3 separate regions of the Homo sapiens genome follow, and regions 1 and 2 are each linked to region 3. The links come from fine-mapping of genetic effects on gene expression. A gene starts in region 3. Each other region holds a variant in brackets. All regions are shown on one strand. Distances are from middle to middle.

The links. PIP is the estimated chance that this variant, and not a neighbour inherited with it, causes the effect.
Region 1: its variant is the best candidate, but not a certain one, in a credible set for the expression of NBEAL2 in whole blood (TOPMed, PIP 0.76).
Region 2: its variant is the best candidate, but not a certain one, in a credible set for the expression of NBEAL2 in blood mononuclear cells (TOPMed, PIP 0.77).

The regions. Positions count from the first base shown.
Region 1 is chr3:47,000,881-47,007,031 of GRCh38, forward strand. It overlaps NBEAL2 (neurobeachin like 2), which reads left to right. Exons shown (of 54, transcript NM_015175.3): 28 at 121-299; 29 at 399-558; 30 at 809-946; 31 at 1,040-1,408; 32 at 1,491-1,640; 33 at 1,765-1,922; 34 at 2,077-2,201; 35 at 2,294-2,429; 36 at 2,936-3,096; 37 at 3,197-3,513; 38 at 3,615-3,710; 39 at 4,092-4,216; 40 at 4,301-4,441; 41 at 4,609-4,739; 4 more. Among named protein-coding and RNA genes, the nearest start is that of NBEAL2, 24 kb to the left of the region's middle. The variant C/T (reference allele first, on the strand shown) is at 3,476.
Region 2 is chr3:46,948,080-46,954,390 of GRCh38, forward strand. All of the region lies in intron 1 of CCDC12 (coiled-coil domain containing 12), which reads right to left. Among named protein-coding and RNA genes, the nearest start is that of CCDC12, 26 kb to the right of the region's middle. RefSeq lists a silencer at 160-454. The variant G/A (reference allele first, on the strand shown) is at 3,558.
Region 3 is chr3:46,975,923-46,981,834 of GRCh38, forward strand. NBEAL2 (neurobeachin like 2) reads left to right here and starts at 3,744. Exons shown (of 54, transcript NM_015175.3): 1 at 3,744-3,990. The coding sequence starts at 3,940. It overlaps CCDC12 (coiled-coil domain containing 12), which reads right to left and starts at 823. Exons shown (of 7, transcript NM_001277074.2): 1 at 715-823. The coding sequence starts at 810. RefSeq lists enhancers at 1-9, 10-711, 1,415-2,115, 4,018-4,798, 4,799-5,579 and 1 more and silencers at 936-1,075, 3,471-3,660, 3,761-4,100.

The DNA.
Region 1 (6,151 bases), 25 kb after region 3:
GCTCTGACTCCTGGGTGGCTACCCCAGGAGGGGTGCTGAGTGGGGATGGGTGGGCGTCAGCCTGATTCCCTCCCTTAGCCGCCCACAACCCACGCCCACACCACCCACCTGTGCCCACAGCAAACCTCTGAGGAAGAGTTGTGCAATCTGCTCACCAACGTGCTGTTCTCGGTGACGTGGCGTGGCGTGGAAGGCAGCGATGAGGCTGCCTGGCGGGAGCGTGGCCAGGTTTTCTCAGTGCTCACCCAGCTGGGGGCCTCAGCCACACTTGTGCGCCCACCAGACTGCATCAAGCGCAGGTGAGAGGGAAAGTCTGGAGGGGGAGGGGCTTCAGGAAGCCTCGGGGGAAGGAGAGAAGATAGTCAGGTAGACCCTTGAGTTCCCCACTCACCCGCCAGCCTCCTGGAGATGATGCTGGAGTCAGCCCTGACCGACATCAAAGAGGCCCCCGTGGGGGTCCTGGCCAGCCTCACCCAGCAAGCGCTTTGGCTGCTGCGTCTGCTGCAGGACTTCCTGTGTGCTGAAGGCCATGGTAACCAGGAACTGTGGAGTGAGAAGGTGCGACCCCTCAGAGAGGCGTGAGCCACATGAACACTCATGTTCATGCAAGCCTGCAGGGATCTGGTCTGGGAGGTGGATGGGTACACGTGCGCAGGTGTGGGTGCATCAGCATGAATGCCTGTGAGTGTGGACTTGCCTGTGTGCACAAACCCTACCTGGCCCCCAGCGCAAACTTTACTTTGCTCCCTTTCCATGGACTCCTGGCCTCCCCTGGTGATGTCTGTTGGGAACCTGTTTTCTGTGGCAGCTCTTTGAAGGTGTATGCAGCCTACTTGATCGCCTGGGAGCCTGGCCCCACCTGGCCAACGGCACAGCTGATCTCCGTGAGATGGCGCAGATTGGCCTACGGCTTGTACTTGGCTACATCCTGCTGGAAGACCCACAGGTGAGCACAGGGTGAGCATGGGGGCAGGGGGCGTGTGAGATGTCGGGAGCTCCAAGAGTGGCTGGGTGCCACTCATCTCTCTTGCGCCCACAGCTGCATGCCCAGGCCTACGTGAGATTGCACATGCTGCTACAGACTGCAGTGCCAGCCCGCCGCGAGGAGGCCTGCTATGTGCTCTCCAAGCTGGAGGCTGCACTGGGGCGGGTGCTGAACACCTCTTCCTTGGAGTCAGCCACTGATGAGGCAGGGTCCCCACTTGCAGCTGCAGCAGCTGCAGCAGCTGCAGAGCGCTGCTCCTGGCTGGTGCCACTGGTGCGCACGCTGCTAGACCGTGCCTATGAGCCGCTGGGGCTGCAGTGGGGACTGCCCTCCCTGCCACCCACCAATGGCAGCCCCACCTTCTTTGAAGACTTCCAGGCTTTTTGTGCCACACCCGAATGGCGCCACTTCATCGACAAACAGGTGCCTGGAGGTTGGGGCCCAGGAAGAGGAGTGGGGGCTGGGGCCCACATCGAGCACTGTTCTCCTCTGCCCAATCCTCCAGGTACAGCCAACCATGTCCCAGTTCGAAATGGACACGTATGCTAAGAGCCACGACCTTATGTCAGGTTTCTGGAATGCCTGCTATGACATGCTTATGAGCAGTGGGCAGCGGCGCCAGTGGGAGCGCGCCCAGAGTCGTCGGGCCTTCCAGGTGTGCCACCCGGGGTAAGGGATGGGAAACTGCTCCACACATGCACCCAGGAGATGACTGACAATGTGGAGAAACGGGTAGGGCAGGCAGCAGCCAGGGGACTGACCTATTACCCCCACCCCAGGAGCTGGTGCTGGAACCTGCGCAGAGGCGGGCGCGCCTGGAGGGGCTACGCTACACGGCAGTGCTGAAGCAGCAGGCAACGCAGCACTCCATGGCCCTGCTGCACTGGGGGGCGCTGTGGCGCCAGCTCGCCAGCCCATGTGGGGCCTGGGCGCTGAGGTGGGCCGGGCTTGGGGCAGGGTCGCTGTGGAGGGGTGGGGCTTGGGAGGGAGGGAGCCACCTGGAGCCCCAGACTGCCTTTGGGGTGAGGCCAGGGAGGGATGGGGGTGTCTACAGCCTTCTACCGACCCATGACCTGGGGGACATTCTGCAGGGACACTCCCATCCCCCGCTGGAAACTGTCCAGCGCCGAGACATATTCACGCATGCGTCTGAAGCTGGTGCCCAACCATCACTTCGACCCTCACCTGGAAGCCAGCGCTCTCCGAGACAATCTGGGTGAGGGAGTGTGCTGAGATGGGTCCACCCAACTCGATTGTCCCGTCTCCTGTCCTGCCTTGCTTCTGCTGAGTACCCTTGGCCCCTTGCAGGTGAGGTTCCCCTGACACCCACCGAGGAGGCCTCACTGCCTCTGGCAGTGACCAAAGAGGCCAAAGTGAGCACCCCACCCGAGTTGCTGCAGGAGGACCAGCTCGGCGAGGACGAGCTGGCTGAGCTGGAGACCCCGTGAGTGGGGCCCTGGAGAGATTGGACTGGTGTGGTGGGCAAGGGGTCTGCTCCAGTGTGTGCATGCCTCTGTGGGATCAACTCCCTGAGTGTGTCCTCTTCTGCTGCCCGACTACGTCCCCCTGAAGGGACTGTCCAAAGCCAGATGGTGAGTGGGAGAGTCTCCTAACAGGGCTGAGAGTTGCTCTTTTAACAGCCAGGCACCTGAGGACAGCACTGAGAAACACAAACCAGAGCAGGAAGGGGGCCCAGGGAGTGGGCAGGGGCTGGGTGAGGGGAGCAGGGGACAAGGGTTGGCATCCTGGCAAAATATTCAGAAGCCCAGTGGGTGGCAGGTGGGGGACAGGGGCTGGGACCAGTAGGTTCTGGACCCTAGGCAGCCCCTCCCCATCTCTGGGAGTCATGAGAGTATATACCCCATGACTCAATGGCACTTGGATGCCCTTTGGGCTTGTGAAGAAGGGGGTCCCAGAGCCTACAGCGTGAGGTGGGTTGCTGGTCTTTAGGATGGAGGCAGCAGAACTGGATGAGCAGCGTGAGAAGCTGGTGCTGTCGGCCGAGTGCCAGCTGGTGACGGTAGTGGCCGTGGTCCCAGGGCTGCTGGAGGTCACCACACAGAATGTATACTTCTACGATGGCAGCACTGAGCGCGTGGAAACCGAGGAGGGTGCGTCCTGGTGGTGTGGTTTAGGAGGATGGCAGGGAATGGCTGAGCTCTGGGTGGGGCTGGGGTGAGTGACTCCCGTACCTGCTGTTCCTCCCCATAGGCATCGGCTATGATTTCCGGCGCCCACTGGCCCAGCTGCGTGAGGTCCACCTGCGGCGTTTCAACCTGCGCCGTTCAGCACTTGAGCTCTTCTTTATCGATCAGGCCAACTACTTCCTCAACTTCCCATGCAAGGTGGGCACGACCCCAGTCTCATCTCCTAGCCAGACTCCCAGACCCCAGCCTGGCCCCATCCCACCCCATACCCAGGTACGGAACCAGGTGTACTCGTGGCTCCTGCGCCTACGGCCCCCCTCTCAAGGCTACCTAAGCAGCCGCT[C/T]CCCCCAGGAGATGCTGCGTGCCTCAGGCCTTACCCAGGTGAGAGCCCTGGGTGTGAGGGATGTGAAGTCGGGACCCTGAATCACGGGGCAGTGCTGGACAGCCCACCTGGCTCACATCTTGTCTGCCCCTGTCCCCAGAAATGGGTACAGCGTGAGATATCCAACTTCGAGTACTTGATGCAACTCAACACCATTGCGGGGCGGACCTACAATGACCTGTCTCAGTACCCTGTGGTGAGGGTCCCACTCTGCACCCCTCCACCCCTGCCCCTCTGACCTGTCAGCCCTTGGTTCCCCCAAGTGTAGGTACCTGCCAGTGGGCCAAGCTCTGAGCTTGGTCAAGGGTAGATGTGCCAATGAAGACCTGGCCTCTGTTCCCTGCCAACCCCCAGAGGTCCCCAGCCTCACTCCCTTCCCCTCCCTGCCTAGCCTCTATTCCTCAAAAGGAATCCTGTTCCAGGACACTCTGTCCTTCTCCCCTGTGACCCCTCTAAGTGGTGCTCCCCCAACCTGTGGGCAGGCTCTGTGCCCGCCTTCTTGAGGGTGTGGGCAGGGCAGGGTGGGCTGGTAGGCCATCAGGGCCCTCATGCAGCCCCTGCTCGGGTGGGTGGCCAGTTCCCCTGGGTCCTGCAGGACTACGTGTCCCCAACCCTGGACCTCAGCAACCCAGCCGTCTTCCGGGACCTGTCTAAGCCCATCGGTGTGGTGAACCCCAAGCATGCCCAGCTCGTGAGGGAGAAGTGAGCATGTGGGCAGGGCTGGGCTCAGCGGGTAGGGAAAGGCGAGGGGAGGGCTTCTGCTGACACGTCCAACTGTGGCCCCAGGTATGAAAGCTTTGAGGACCCAGCAGGGACCATTGACAAGTTCCACTATGGCACCCACTACTCCAATGCAGCAGGCGTGATGCACTACCTCATCCGCGTGGAGCCCTTCACCTCCCTGCACGTCCAGCTGCAAAGTGGCCGGTGCGGCCCAGGGGCTGGTGGGCAGACTAGGGGGCAGATAAGGGGAGGAGGCTGGTCCTCCCCACATCCTGGGCCCACCCCTGGCTCCCTTCTTCCCTCCAGCCACAGCATCTCCCTCCCTGTCTCCATTCTCCCCACCTCACCTTGGCCCCGTGCCCCTCCCCCAGCTTTGACTGCTCCGACCGGCAGTTCCACTCGGTGGCGGCAGCCTGGCAGGCACGCCTGGAGAGCCCTGCCGATGTGAAGGAGCTCATCCCGGAATTCTTCTACTTTCCTGACTTCCTGGAGAACCAGAACGGTAGGTGTGAGGTGCTCACACTGGAGCGGGCAGGTGTAGGGATGGAGAGCAGATGGTGGAGTGGCCAGGGGGCAGTCGGGATGGACAGGGAGACAGCTGACCCAGTCCTCTGTGCCAGGTTTTGACCTGGGCTGTCTCCAGCTGACCAACGAGAAGGTAGGCGATGTGGTGCTACCCCCGTGGGCCAGCTCTCCTGAGGACTTCATCCAGCAGCACCGCCAGGCTCTGGTGAGGAAGGAACCACAGGCAAACGGCAGGCAGCCGGGGTTCTGAAGATCATGGGGGGTCAGCTGTCCCTGCACTGATTGCTGCCTCCCTACTCTCAGGAGTCGGAGTATGTGTCTGCACACCTACACGAGTGGATCGACCTCATCTTTGGCTACAAGCAGCGGGGGCCAGCCGCCGAGGAGGCCCTCAATGTCTTCTATTACTGCACCTATGAGGGTGGGCAGTGCGCTGGACTCCAGTCAGGGCCAGGACAAGATCAGGTCGGGTGGATGCAGAGGGCACGCAGGGAGCCCTGACTGCTCTGCCTGCCTTCCCAGGGGCTGTAGACCTGGACCATGTGACAGATGAGCGGGAACGGAAGGCTCTGGAGGGCATTATCAGCAACTTTGGGCAGACTCCCTGTCAGCTGCTGAAGGTAAGGCCAGCTTAGAGGATAGTGGCCAGGGATGCCCATGCCATGGTGCTGACCAGCCACTTACCCACAGGAGCCACATCCAACTCGGCTCTCAGCTGAGGAAGCAGCCCATCGCCTTGCACGCCTGGACACTAACTCACCTAGCATCTTCCAGCACCTGGACGAACTCAAGGCATTCTTCGCAGAGGTGAAAGGAAGACAAGACCTCAACTTTATATTCTGTGAAATGGGTTTAACCCCACTGTCCTTACCAACCACGTGGGGCAGATGGGAATCCTAATCAAGGTCACTGATTTCAAGGCACCTTAGAAAATGAGCTAAACATGGGAAGAGTATGGGGGCAGGAGGGGTGCCTTCTTCATCAGGGCCAGGATAAAGTGTCGACTCAACAAGCTCTGAAAGCCTTAGGGAGATCAGGAGGGAGATCTGTCCTTGGACCCCTTCCATCGCCTTCCTAGACAGGAACATTCCTGAATGTTGCCCCCAGGCCTGACTTTTTTTTTAGGTTTCCCTCTCTTCCTGCCTTTGGGCTAGGGGGACAAGGAATAACAGGGTGAGAGGACCAAGTTGAAACTAAGTGTGATACTCTGGAAGCATCTTCCATGTCTGTCCCAGCTTCTCACCCACTTTCTGAGATGCCCTCCTAAAGTCTCTGCCTGTTTCTTGGAGGGAACCTCTGCATCTGTGACACCTACTCTATGACCCCTGGGGACTGACAGTAAAGGAAGGGATGATGCTTCAGGGAGCAGATAGTGTAATCTGATAGTAC
Region 2 (6,311 bases), 28 kb before region 3:
TCATCCTTATCAGATGTTCTCAGCAATCCTGTAAGCAGACAGGGCAGTGTTGTAATACCTGCTTCACCAAGACATTAGGAGATGACGTCAGATGATCTGTGCAGTGTAGACAGATCTGATTCCCCATTCAGTGCTTCACCAAGAGTCAGCAGGAACAGGTGGTGACTACCATCCAAGAGGCTGGGATTAGCTAAGAGCCACTGCTCTCCTGTGGGTTCATGTGTTCCCTAAAGGCTTCTGAGCAGAGCAAGAACAAAGCGCTGAGCGGGAGGCTGGGAGAACAGCGAGGCTAGAGATAAGGACTGGAGATAAGGACGGGAACTAGGTCAACAGCGGTGGACTAGAACAAGGAGGTGCCTCAACGCTGTGGGGAGACAGGGAGGAGCAGAAACAACTGAGGTTCTGCTGGTGACTCACTGGGGGAAGGAAGGCGCCTTTGACAAAAAGGTGGTGGCACTTAGGGGACAAAGAGAAAGGGTGTGGCAGCCTTCAGGCATTCTAACGGTGAGGCTTGACACCCAAGGCCTGACGAAGGTTGGTGCCAAGGGATAGCACCTGTCAAGGTGCCCTCAGCGGTGGAAAGGAGGGCCCGCTCCACTCAGAAGAGAGGCACGCTGGGCCCCACCATCCATATGGCACCTCAAGGGCCAGGCCACGGCATGCCTAGTGCAGCTCCTCGCCAGGCCCGTCACACGGCCCTGCCCAGATATCCTCCATGTGTCTGTCAGGAGTGTGGGGAGCCAGCCCAAGTCAACTCTGATCCTATTCTTGCTGCAAGTGCTCAAGGGAGGCACTACAGAGCTCCTCCAGCAGACTTTATCAGTCGACAAATACTGACTGGCTCCCCTGTGGTACTCCATGCTGTACTCAGATACTCCATGCTGGGTACTGAGGAGGAAGAGGAACGAGTAGGCACCTAGTGCCCACAGAGCAGGGCAGGGGTTCTTATCCTCGGTGCACAGATTCCAGAGGTCAATGACCAGACAGAAACACAGGCGAGTGTGAGAAGGTGAATCTTAGTGGATGAGAAATCTGGAGCTCTTCAGATTCTCAAGGGGGTGGTGACCCACAGGGGAAAAGGGAAGGTGTCAACAGCCAGGGAAGGCAGTGTTTTTTTGGGTGGCATTAAGAGGTGTCTACAGAGGCTTTCCAAAGGAAGTGTCACCTTAAAGGATGAGTGACAGTGGGGACAGAGGGACGGAGGGGGAAGAGAGCAGAGGGAACAACCAGAACCATTAGTATGCAAAAGGCCCCTCCCACTGCCCTGAGACTTCACCCACACTGGCCCCAGCAGGAAATAACCTCTTGAAAGGTCACACAGAGGGCAGGGCAAAGACCAGTCTCTTCCCCTTCCTTCATATGCAGCCAGACTGGACGAGTTCCTCTGGGAAGTCTGGCCTGGCTCCAAACTCCCTCCAGGGTCCTCCCTGTAGGGGCACTGTGGTATGCAGGAAGCCCAGCCTGCAGCCCTGGACTGGGCAGGTGGTGGGAACATCAGGACACACTGCTTACCAGTGGTGGGACCTCCCTGAGGCTCTGTCTCCTCCCCTGTCAAAGTGGGGCTGGCACTACTTTAACAGGGGCATGTGAGGATTATACAAGGCAACTTGGGTCCACCATGTGGTACAGGGTCCCGCATGACCCTGCACCATGAAAAACTGCCTGCTGGCCGGGCACAGTGGCTCACGCCTGTAATCCCAGCACTTTGGGAGGCCAAGGCAGGTGGATCATAAGGTCAGGAGTTCGAGACCAGCCTGGCCAATATGGTGAAAACCTATCTTTACTAAAACTACAAAAATTAGCCGGGCATGGTGGCGGGCGCCTGTAGTCCCAGCTACTCGGGAGGCTGAGGCAGGAGAACTGCTCGAACCCAGAGGTAGTGGTTGCAGTGAGCCAAGATTGCGCTACCACACTCCAGCCTGGGTGACAGAGTGAGACTCCATCTCAAAAAAAAAAAAAAAAGAAAAGAAAAAAAAACTGCCTGCTGACATCTTGCAGTGTCCCAAGTCCTGCTGTCCCTCAGCGATGGGCCTAATTCGAACCCTGGTTCTTGCTGCATCCCTCTTAGGGAACCTGATGCTCCTTCTGTTCTCACCCACCCCTTGCCCTGACACAAAAACCAAGAAAGCACTTAACAAGAACCCAGGACCCAGCACCCAGGGCCCAGATCCATGCTGGGAAACAGAAGGCCTATTAGTATTAGACCAACCAGAAGAGAAATTGATCTACATTTGCATTTTTTTGAGATAGGGTCTCGCTCTGTTGTCCAGCTGTCCAGGCTGGAATGCATGGTGCAATCATAGCTTACCACAGCCTGAAATTCCTAGGCTCAAGTAAACCTCCCACCTCAGCCTCCTGCATAGGAGTAGCTAGGACTACAGGGGCATGCCACCATGCACAGCTTTTTTTTTTTTTTTGGGGTAGAGACAGGGTCTAACTATATTGCCAAGGTTGGTTTCGAGCTCCTGGGCTCAAGTAATCCTCCTGCCTTGGCCTCCCAAAGTGCTGGATTATAGGCATGAGCCACATGCCCAGCCCATTTTTTAAAATGTAACAACATTCATGTGAATGGAGCACATTATCCTTTTCTGAAAGTGCTACATTTTTTTGGCTAAGTCTCTGTATATGCTAAACTTAATTTTTAAAAGTGAGGCTCAAATGGAAATAACCTGTGTCCATAAATGGATGAATGAGTAAGAAAATTTAGTATATACACACAATGAAATACTATTCAGGCTTCAAAAAAAAAAGAGGAAATCCTGTCATTTGCAACAACATGGACAAATCTGGGGAACATTATGCTAAGCGAAATAAGCCAGGCTCAGAAAGACAAATACTGCATGATCTCACTTATATGTGGAATCTAAAACAGTAGAACTGGCCAGCCACAGTGGCTCACACCTGTAATCCCAGCATTTCGGGAGGCCGAGGCGGGTCCCAACTACCCAGGAGGCTGAGGTGGGAGGATCAAACAAGGCCACGAGGTCAAGGCTGCAGTGAGCTGTAACTGAACTACTGCACTCCAGCCTTGGCAACAGAGTGAGACTCGTATCTCAAAAAAATTAAAAATTAAAATAAAAAAATAAAAAGTAGAACTCACCGAAACAGAGACTAGATGGGTGGTTACAGAGGCTGGAGTTGCAGGAGAGGTGGAGAAAGTGAAGATGTTGGGCAAAGGACACAAAGTTCCAGTTAGGCAGGAGGAGTGTGTTTAAGGGAGCTACTGCACAGCATGGTGATCGGTTAATAATAATGTATATTCAAAATTGCTGAGCCTAGATTTTAAAGTCTCACCACAAAAAATGTTAAATCAGCTTGATTTAATCTTTCTACAACGTATATTGTAGAAACATCACGTTGTACACCATAAATATACAGCTATTATTTATCAATTAACAATTTTTAAAAAATCATTTTAGGGCTGGGCACGGTGGCTCAGGCCTGTAATCCCAGCACTTTGGGAAGCCGAGGCGGGTGGATCACGAGGTCAGGAGATCAAGACCATCCTGGCTAACACAGTGAAACCCCGTCCCTACTAAAAATACAGAAAATTAGCC[G/A]GGCGTGGTGGCGGGCACCTGCAGTCCCAGCTACTCGGGAGGCTGAGGCAGGAGAATGGCGTGAACTAGGGAGGCGGAGCTTGCAGTGAGCCAAGATTGTGCCACTGCACTCCAGCCTGGGCGACAGAACGAGACTCCGTCTCAAAAAAAAAAAAAAAAAAAATATATATATATATATATATATATACTTAATGAGGATCAAATTAACAATGATCTATCTGCTATCTGATTCCTTTAGGATTGTCAAGAGGCCCCAGGCTACAAGAACAGGCACCACCCATCTGTGAAGTTTCCCCACAGAATCCTTAATTCTGACCCCACCACAAAACTCGGTGGGTGGGTTTCAGCACATTCTCCTGTGTGGGCCAAAGGTCATGACCACTTTTAGCACAAAGGTGTTCTTCCCATGCCTTCTAATGATAACCATCCCAGACATATGATTCTACCTTTATTTCCCCACATGAGATTTTGTTTGACATCTGTCTTCCTTCCTAGACTGGAAGCTCTCAGAGGCCTCTCCATCACTGCTCACAGCACCTGGCACTAAGAGCAGCTGGACCAATAGTAAAGGAACCACCTGGGGAGGCAGAAGGCACATGCTAACTTCCCATGTTACAGGAACTTCTGTTGTGTGAGCCTTCCAACAGCACCCACGTATTCGGTTATCACTAGCCTTGTTGCACAGATGCAAGAACTGAGGCTGGACCAGGTCTGTGCATGTCATACCTAATACTCTTTCCATTGGGTAGAGCACAAGTTTTGGGAAATAAACAGAAGCCCAGCTCCCCGCTGCCACATCCTCAGTTCTTTCTACCACACATGCTGCTTGTTTATCCTTTAGTTGTCTGTTCTATCCTCTTTTCCAACAACTATCTGCACCTCTGCTTCTCTCCTGCAAAATGAAGACAAAAATCCCAACCCTGCCCACTTCTTGGGAGTGTGGTTTTAACTAGGTTCCATAAAATTGGAAGATTTTCCATTAGAAGGTGAGCCCTGGGCAGTGCCGAACCCAAATGTCACTCTTCTCTGTTCTGCATGTCTTACAACACTGTCAATTCTTTGGTAATAACAGTATGCCAGGCAACTGATTATTCCATTAATTAAACAGTAGTACTGATATTATCAAAAATAATCAATAATTAATCACTATGAAAATCTAATAAGGTCAGCACTCCTTTCTCCTACCACAGATGAGAAAAATGGAAGCCCAGGACAATTAAGTAACCCATCCAGAGTCACACAGCTAGAGGTTGCCAGGACGCAAATGGCAGGGCAGGCTTCAAGCATAGGCTGATTCCCTCTAGAACCCCTGCCCTTTGCTCTTGTCCCACTCCTGTCCCTACCTTTCACATGCAAATGGTTTCAAGTGTGTCTAGGGTGCCTCCATCTGTCATCACATGAGAGTTGACAGCTCTTTCTGGTGTCATTTCAGAGAGATACAATCAAACCCATCGAGAGCCCCAAATATTGTCATTTCTTGGCCAAGAACTCCAGTCCCAAAAGACATCACAAGGAAATAAAAGAGCAATGCATGCAGAGGTGTTTAGAGCTGTGTTTCTCACAGTAGGGAGAAGTGGAACTATGCAGTGAGCCCAACACCGTAGGGCACAGTTATGCAGGCCAGCATTCACATGATGGGCCAGGGGAGGCATTAAAATAGCGAGGCAGCACTATGCAACAGACAAACACACAAACGCCAGGGGTAAGAGTCCTATATTACATACTCATGATTGCAACCATGGCAATACCATACATACAAATGGCCAAAGACTTCACAGACTCGCACTCAACCGTGGGTAGTATTTTTTCCATCTTCCTTAATTCTGCTGTCAAAATGACTTAATAATAAAAGTAACCAGAGGAACCTAGCTGACTATGGCTCACTATCTTGACTCATACCCTAAACAGATTCTCTTGACCCTCACCTGGCTAAATGGGGAAGCAGGAAACCATGGCTGGCACTCAGGCCTGACACAGCCTTGTCAATGCCTAATGACTTTTCTCAAGCTTGGAAAAAAAAAAAAAAAAAAGTCCAGCTTTGCTGGTGCAGAAGAGGACAGGTTGAGCCTGCACACACCAGCGTCCCTCTGCAGCCTGGGACTCTAACCACAGTAGCAAATGCAGCAGCCAATTGTAGACTAAGCCCTCTTAAATCAGGATAGACATCTCCATTACTGGGGGGCTAAAAATGTCGGTTAAGAAACTAACTGGTGATGAGCAATGAAGTCACCTCCCCACCCTCTCACCCTACCCCACCATTTCCCTTTTCTTGGAGGGGAAAAAAGCCTCCTTCACCACAAAGCAGAATTCACAACCACTAGGACTTCCTCACCATTCTAAGCTCACGAGGGGAGCAGCAGTGAGCAAATCACAAAAGCAAATGATAAGGTCCATGCAGATTGGAAGACCCCTCCCCTGGTGGGAGACAGCTTCGTGTGGCACCCAGAAACCCCTTCCCCATTGCCTCACAGTGGACAGTCAGAGGAATCAGGCACAGGGGGCCCACCTGGTCAGTTCCAGGGACTGGAACAACCACCCAGACTCTCTGGTCCTGAGGACATGTGGCTGCTACCTGACCATCCCCAGATCTGTAAGGCCTGTAGAACAAAAGAAGGTGACCTTTCTCCACAAACTCTGGCTGGTAGATAGGATCCTTAGGCTGAGCCCAGGAGGGAAGAGGAGGAGAAAGCCCAACCACTATGTGTTCACTTTCGCTGGATCCAACAGAGACAGCAAGCAAGGACCTGAAAACCT
Region 3 (5,912 bases):
ACAACCTCTGCCTCCCAGGCTCAAGCGGTTCTCCTGCCATAGCCTCCCGAGAAGCTGGGATTACAGGCGCGCACCACCACGCCCGGCTAATTTTTGTATTTTTAGTAGAGGCGGGGTTTCACCATGTTACCCAGCCTGGTCTCGAACTACTAACCTCAAGTGATCCGCCTGCCTCGGCCTCCCAAAGCACTGGGATTACAGGCGTGAGCCACCGTGCCCGGCCTCTTTTTGATTTTTGCACGAAACGACTCCGGCTGTATACCCACTGCTGTCACTTGCTGCCCTGTCCAAGGAGTGCTGCCGGACTGGGGAGTCTGTCTGACTCAGAATCGAAGGCGGGGGTTAAAGACCAGCTAGGCCATAGAGGAACGGAACAAATCACGCCTAACCCAACAAGCATCTGAACCTACAGGCAGCCCTAGATACCTACACGAGCAACACCCGGGAAGCAGGAGTCAGATGGACTGCGGGTCGCTGACCACTGCCTTGCCCACCCCCGCGCATGCGCGACGACCGCACCAGCGCCAGAGGAGTCCCACGCCAAGCAGCCCCAGACATCGTGGGAGGGCGCCGTCTTCTCGCGCATGCGTTAGCGCCCGCGCATGCGCGCCCTCGGCAGCTGTCTTTCCTTATTAGCCCTTTGCTCTCCTCAAGCGCGACCCGGACCCCGAACGCTGGACGCCTCAACTGCGACCCTCACTCCACACTTCTCACCTTGCGCCCGGTTTTCTCCCGTAGGGCCTTCAGCCGTTCCTTTCGCCGCAACGCCTCTTCCTCTAGCCGGCCCACACCAGCCGTAGTTGCCTCCATCTTGCCCGCGTACGCCCCTCCTTTTCTCCCGTCTTGCATCGCGCAGGCCTAAGGAGAGTGGATAAATGTCTCGCGGCCAATCCAAGGACGAGAATGAGAGACTGGGAGGTCCTGAAAGCCAATCAATGCGGGGTTATTATGGGCGAGCCCTCCCCGCCTTGCCCCGCCCCGCCCCGCCCCGCCCTTATTCTTCCGGACAACTTGCCTAGTGGGTGGGGAGCCAGCAAAAAAAAAAAAGAAAAAAAAAAAAGCTAAGGCTCGATTTATCCAACGCTGATCAGTGAAAGAGCAGCAAGTGGAATTCAGACCTGAGAGAAGGAGAAAAGAGTGCGTCGATCGCTCCGGTTTTGCCCAAGTACTAACCACACTAATCACTCCATGCTGGCCTCTTGGAATGCCCTGACTCATCCTTGTCCACTTGACCTGACAAGGCTCGAATGCCTTCAAGAAACCTTCCCTGGGCCGGGCGCGGTGGCTCACGCCTGTAATCCCAGCACTTTGGGAGGCCGAGGAGGGCGGACCACGAGGTCAGGAGATGGAGACCATCCTGGCCAACATGGTGAAACTCCATCTCTACTAAAAATACAAAAATTAACTGGGCGTGGTGGCGCGTGCCTGTAATCCCAGCTACTCGGGAGGCTGAGGCAGGAGAATCGCTTGAACCAGAGAGGCGGAGGTTGCAGTGAGCCGAGATCGTGCCACTGCACTCCAGCCTGGCAGCAGAGCAAGACTCCGTCTCAAAAAAAAAAAAAAAAAAAAAAAAGCCTTCCCTGATCCTCCACTTCGATCCCACCCTAATACAAGGTATGACTTACACCTCTGCAGCTGTCAGTGGCTCCCCGGACTCACCTGACAAGCGCCCCTAAGCCCCTCTGTGACCACTCTCAGCTCAGACAAAGCCTGCACAGTGAGGGGGACCTGACTGTATGGCTGTTTCCCTCTGGACTCAAAGATGATCCCCTCTCATTCCCATCCCCTCCTGGAGCAGCAAAGTCCTCAGGGTCAAGTTACCTTTCCCGGGGAAGAGCAAACCCCAACCTGGGTCCAGTGGGCCTCAAGTACTGCCCCCAATCCCCAGCTTAGAAAGACTTGGGGTGGCCTCGACTGCAAGTCGCCACAAGATTCATGGCTACCCAGCAGAAGCTGCCAGAGTCTTCTTTCCTGCATGAACTAGAGTGTCCTGATAACCGCGAGACCACTTAGGCTGAAGTCAAGATATTCTTTCAGTATGTGGGGGTCCCCAAAGCCACACCCCCTCTCACTTGGGAATAGGAGACCATGCCGCCCCCTCTCCACCTCCACTGCCAGGGGACAACTAGCCTCTTAGGCTGTTCCCTCCCTGAGTCTTCCCTTCCCAAGCTGGCTACAGGTGGACATCCACTCTTCCCCTTCCAACTCCCTTCAGAGGCCCATGGGCCACAGACTGCAGATCTAGCCCTCCCTTCACTAACCCTCTTGTCCTCACTAACCTGGGTCTGTCTAAGCCTTCTTCCCTGTAGTGGATGGGTTGCTCTGCCAAGGCCTGGCATGCAGTTTGGAGGTGCTCAGGAAACCTCAGCTCAGAGCTATGATGGATGAAGCAGGACAAAAGGCCAGAGGTGAACCAAGAAGCTGGGAGAACAAAACAGGACAGGGTCTCTGTTGTCTTGGCCAACCAAGGTCTAGGAGTCTCCAGACTGGTCAACTCCTGGAACGAGTAGCACCCCTCTGGGCCCAGAAAACTTCTCCCCAGCCCCAACAAAGAGCCTGATCCCTGCCCAACACCAGGGGTTGGGTCCCTGCCACCATCACCCCGTGCCCCTTTCCCCGTGTCCAGACTGTGAGGTAAGGGGATGGGGAAGGGGGCACGGGGTGATGGTGGCAGGGACCCAAAAAAGAGTCAGTCAAGCCTGGGTCCCTGCCCCTGCTGCCCAAGTGGTCCTCATTTGGTCAACTTGGGCCTCAGTTTCTCCATCTGTAAAACAGAGCCGGCCGGGTGCGGTGGCTCATGCCTATAATCCCAGCACTTTGGGAGGTCGAGGCGGGTGGATCATGAAGTCAGGAAATCCAGACCATCCTGGCTAACACGGTGGAACCCCGTCTCTACTAAAAATACAAAAAATTAGCTGGGCCTGGTGACACGCGCCTGTAGTCCCAGCTACTCAGGAGGCTGAGGCAGGAGAATCACTTGAACCCAGGAGGCGGAGATTGCAGTGAGCCGAGATCGAGTCACTGCACTCCAGCCTGGGCGACAGAGTGAGACTCTGTCTCAAAAACAAACAAAAAACAGAGCCATGAGGCACCCACCTGTTGAGGTTAAAGAAACAACATATGTGAAGCAAGTTCTGGGCCCTGGAGTTGGGGAATGGGGGGAGCCCCTCCACTGGAGCGTTTGGGAAGGCTTCCTGGAGGAGGGAGGGGGACCCGTGGCAACGGTCTAAGCCTCTCTGGGATCTGGGAGGGCACCGCGGCCCCGAAGGTATTTCAGGCTAGTCCTGCTACTCTCTAACTTCCCGCCATCACACTCCACAAACAGCTAGAGCTCAAAAGTTGCGTTTCGGTCTTCCCATAAAGCGACAGAGTAGCACCTGGCATTTGATAAGCGCTACAAGGGGTCGTCATGGTGGTGGTGGAGATTATTGTTGAAGGACCCTCGCCACCTCCACGCGGCCCGCCGCCCCTTCCCTGAATGGCGGCAAATGCAGTCAGGCGAGCAGCGTCCTGGGCGGATTCAGACCCTGGGGAAGTCTGGAATTCCTCACCCCGACCCTCGTCCCGGAGGCTCAGGCTGGCCCTTCCAATGGCACTGGTGGGGCAGGGCAGCGGGGCACCCTCCCGGGCCGCCCGGCCCATAGGCCCCTCCTCCTGCCAGGCTCTCCGCCCTTTACATGGTCCCAGGAGAGGCGGGGCGGCGGTGACTGCAGCGAAGTGCAGGAAGCTGGGCGGCGGCCGGCAGTGAGGAGGAGGAGCGAGCAGACTTGGGTGGCTCTGCGCCGCGGAGGCCACAGCCGCAGACTTCCCCAGTAGTACCGCGCCGCTCCGCCCCGGAGTGACGCCCTCCGCCCATGGGCCTGGCCGAGGGCAACCGGCGGGCGGCGCGGAGGAGGCGGCGACAGGTGGCGCGCAGCAGGGCCGGAGCCGGGCCGGGCCATGGCCGCCTCGGAGCGGCTGTACGAGTTGTGGCTGCTCTACTACGCGCAGGTGAGCCCGCCCCGCCCCGCGCCCGCACCCGCACCCGCGGTGCCCCCAGCTTCGCGCGCCCCGCGCCTGCTGCACCTGGCGCCCCGCGCCGCTGGGGCCGCGTAGCCGCGCGCGCGGGCGCGCGCGCGCAGGGCATGCTCCGGCTCCGCACACACGTGTGTGCCCCCAGCCCGCCGGGTGCCTCTGGCACTTATGCCTTGGGGACAGAGCTCGCGGTCGTGCACTTCATAGCAACCCACCCCCGCGAGCAGGACCGTGCAGCCTGAGTCTTTCTTGCTAGAGGAGAGTGGCCTGGGCCGAGGCGGCCGGACACTTGGCCTTTTTACAAATGGGGAAACTGAGACCTGGAGAGACCTGGAGACTGGCCAGGAGGCTAGGGGGAGGGGGACTCAATTTGTCTATGAGCTGCCTCTCCCTTGGGCGCGGCCTGATTGGGTGGTCGTGGCCAACGGGTCTGGGGGTGTGGGCCAAGGTAGGGAGGTGTGTGGAAGGGGAATGCTCCCACTTCAGGTCCTTCTTGAGTTGCATCCCCCCACACCCCAGCGAACAGGCTGTGATAAGCTCTTCCCTGACTTGAAATGACCCACCCCACCCCACCCCCATTCTGAGGGGTAGACCCAGGACCTCTCTAGGAGCAGAAGAAAAGGTTTTCCTCTGGATGCCCAGGGTGAGGGTGGGTCCTTGAGGCCCTGAGGGATGTCTGAAAAGGTTGGAGGGAGGCCCGTTCCTCCTGAGCTCCCCACCCATCTCAGAAAATACTTCAGGTGGAGTCAGAAGGTGAGGGGAGTGACTCAGACGTGGGTGTCCCATCAGCTGAGAACCTGGTATCACTCACACCGTCTCACACACATAGTCCCCCATTTTCCTTCTGTACCCACAGCAGGGAGGGATCCCAGGGTAACACTCCCCTCCCCTTCACCCAGCACCTCCCTCCCTGCACCTGCCTGGCATCATGCTCCTGGCTCAGGTGTGCCCTGGGCACAATGGACCATTGTGTGCCCTGAACAGTTTGTCAGTGGGGGGAATTCATGCTCAGACACGCTGGCCCTCCATAAGGAGGCTGGCCCACTGTCTTCCACGGACCTGGAGTCCAGGCCAGAAGGACCACAGCCTCTTCAGTCCGCTCAGGTTGTGAGAGGTCCAGGCCCCAGCAGGAGGCCAGGCATGGAGTAGAGTCCCTCTTTGGTATAACTCAGATCGAACTCGACTTCTGAGCCTCTGCTTCCTGCCTGTAAAACTGACACAGCCCTGGCCGGGCACGGTGGCTCACACCTGTAATCCCAGCACTTTGGGAGGCCGAGGCGGGCAGATCACAAGGTCAGGAGATCGAGACCATCCTGGCCAACATGGTGAAACCCCATCTCTACTAAAATACAAAAATTAGCCGGGCGTGGTGGGGTGTGCCTGTAATCCCAGCTACTCGGGAGGCTGAGGCAGGAGAATCGCTTGAACCAGGGAGGCAGAGGTTGCAGTGAGCCGAGATCGCGCCACTGCACTCCAGCCTGGTGACAGAGTGAGACTCCGTCTCAAAAAAATAAAATAAAAATAAAAAACTGACACAGCCCTGACCTCAGGGGCTTCCTGGACTCTGTGGAGAGGTAGCCATTATAGCTGGTCCAGACCAGAGAAGGCTCCTGTTTTCCTGGCCCCATTGGGTCCCCTCGCCCCAGCTTCTCTGCCTGCATCCCCAGTGGTTGTGAAGGAGCAGAGGGTTTGAAGAGAAGCCTACCCTAGTCCTCCTTCCTCGGACTGCCCCATAGCTATGGGCAGGCTCTAGGTGCATGGGCAGGTAAAGGGGGCTTAAACCAGCTGGTGAGTGTGAGGGATGTTAATGATAGGTCTTCAGCCTGGGTGGCAGGCTGCTGGGAGTGTCTTGGTATCTCCCAGGACAGTAACTCCAGCATGGTTGCCTCCTGATGCCC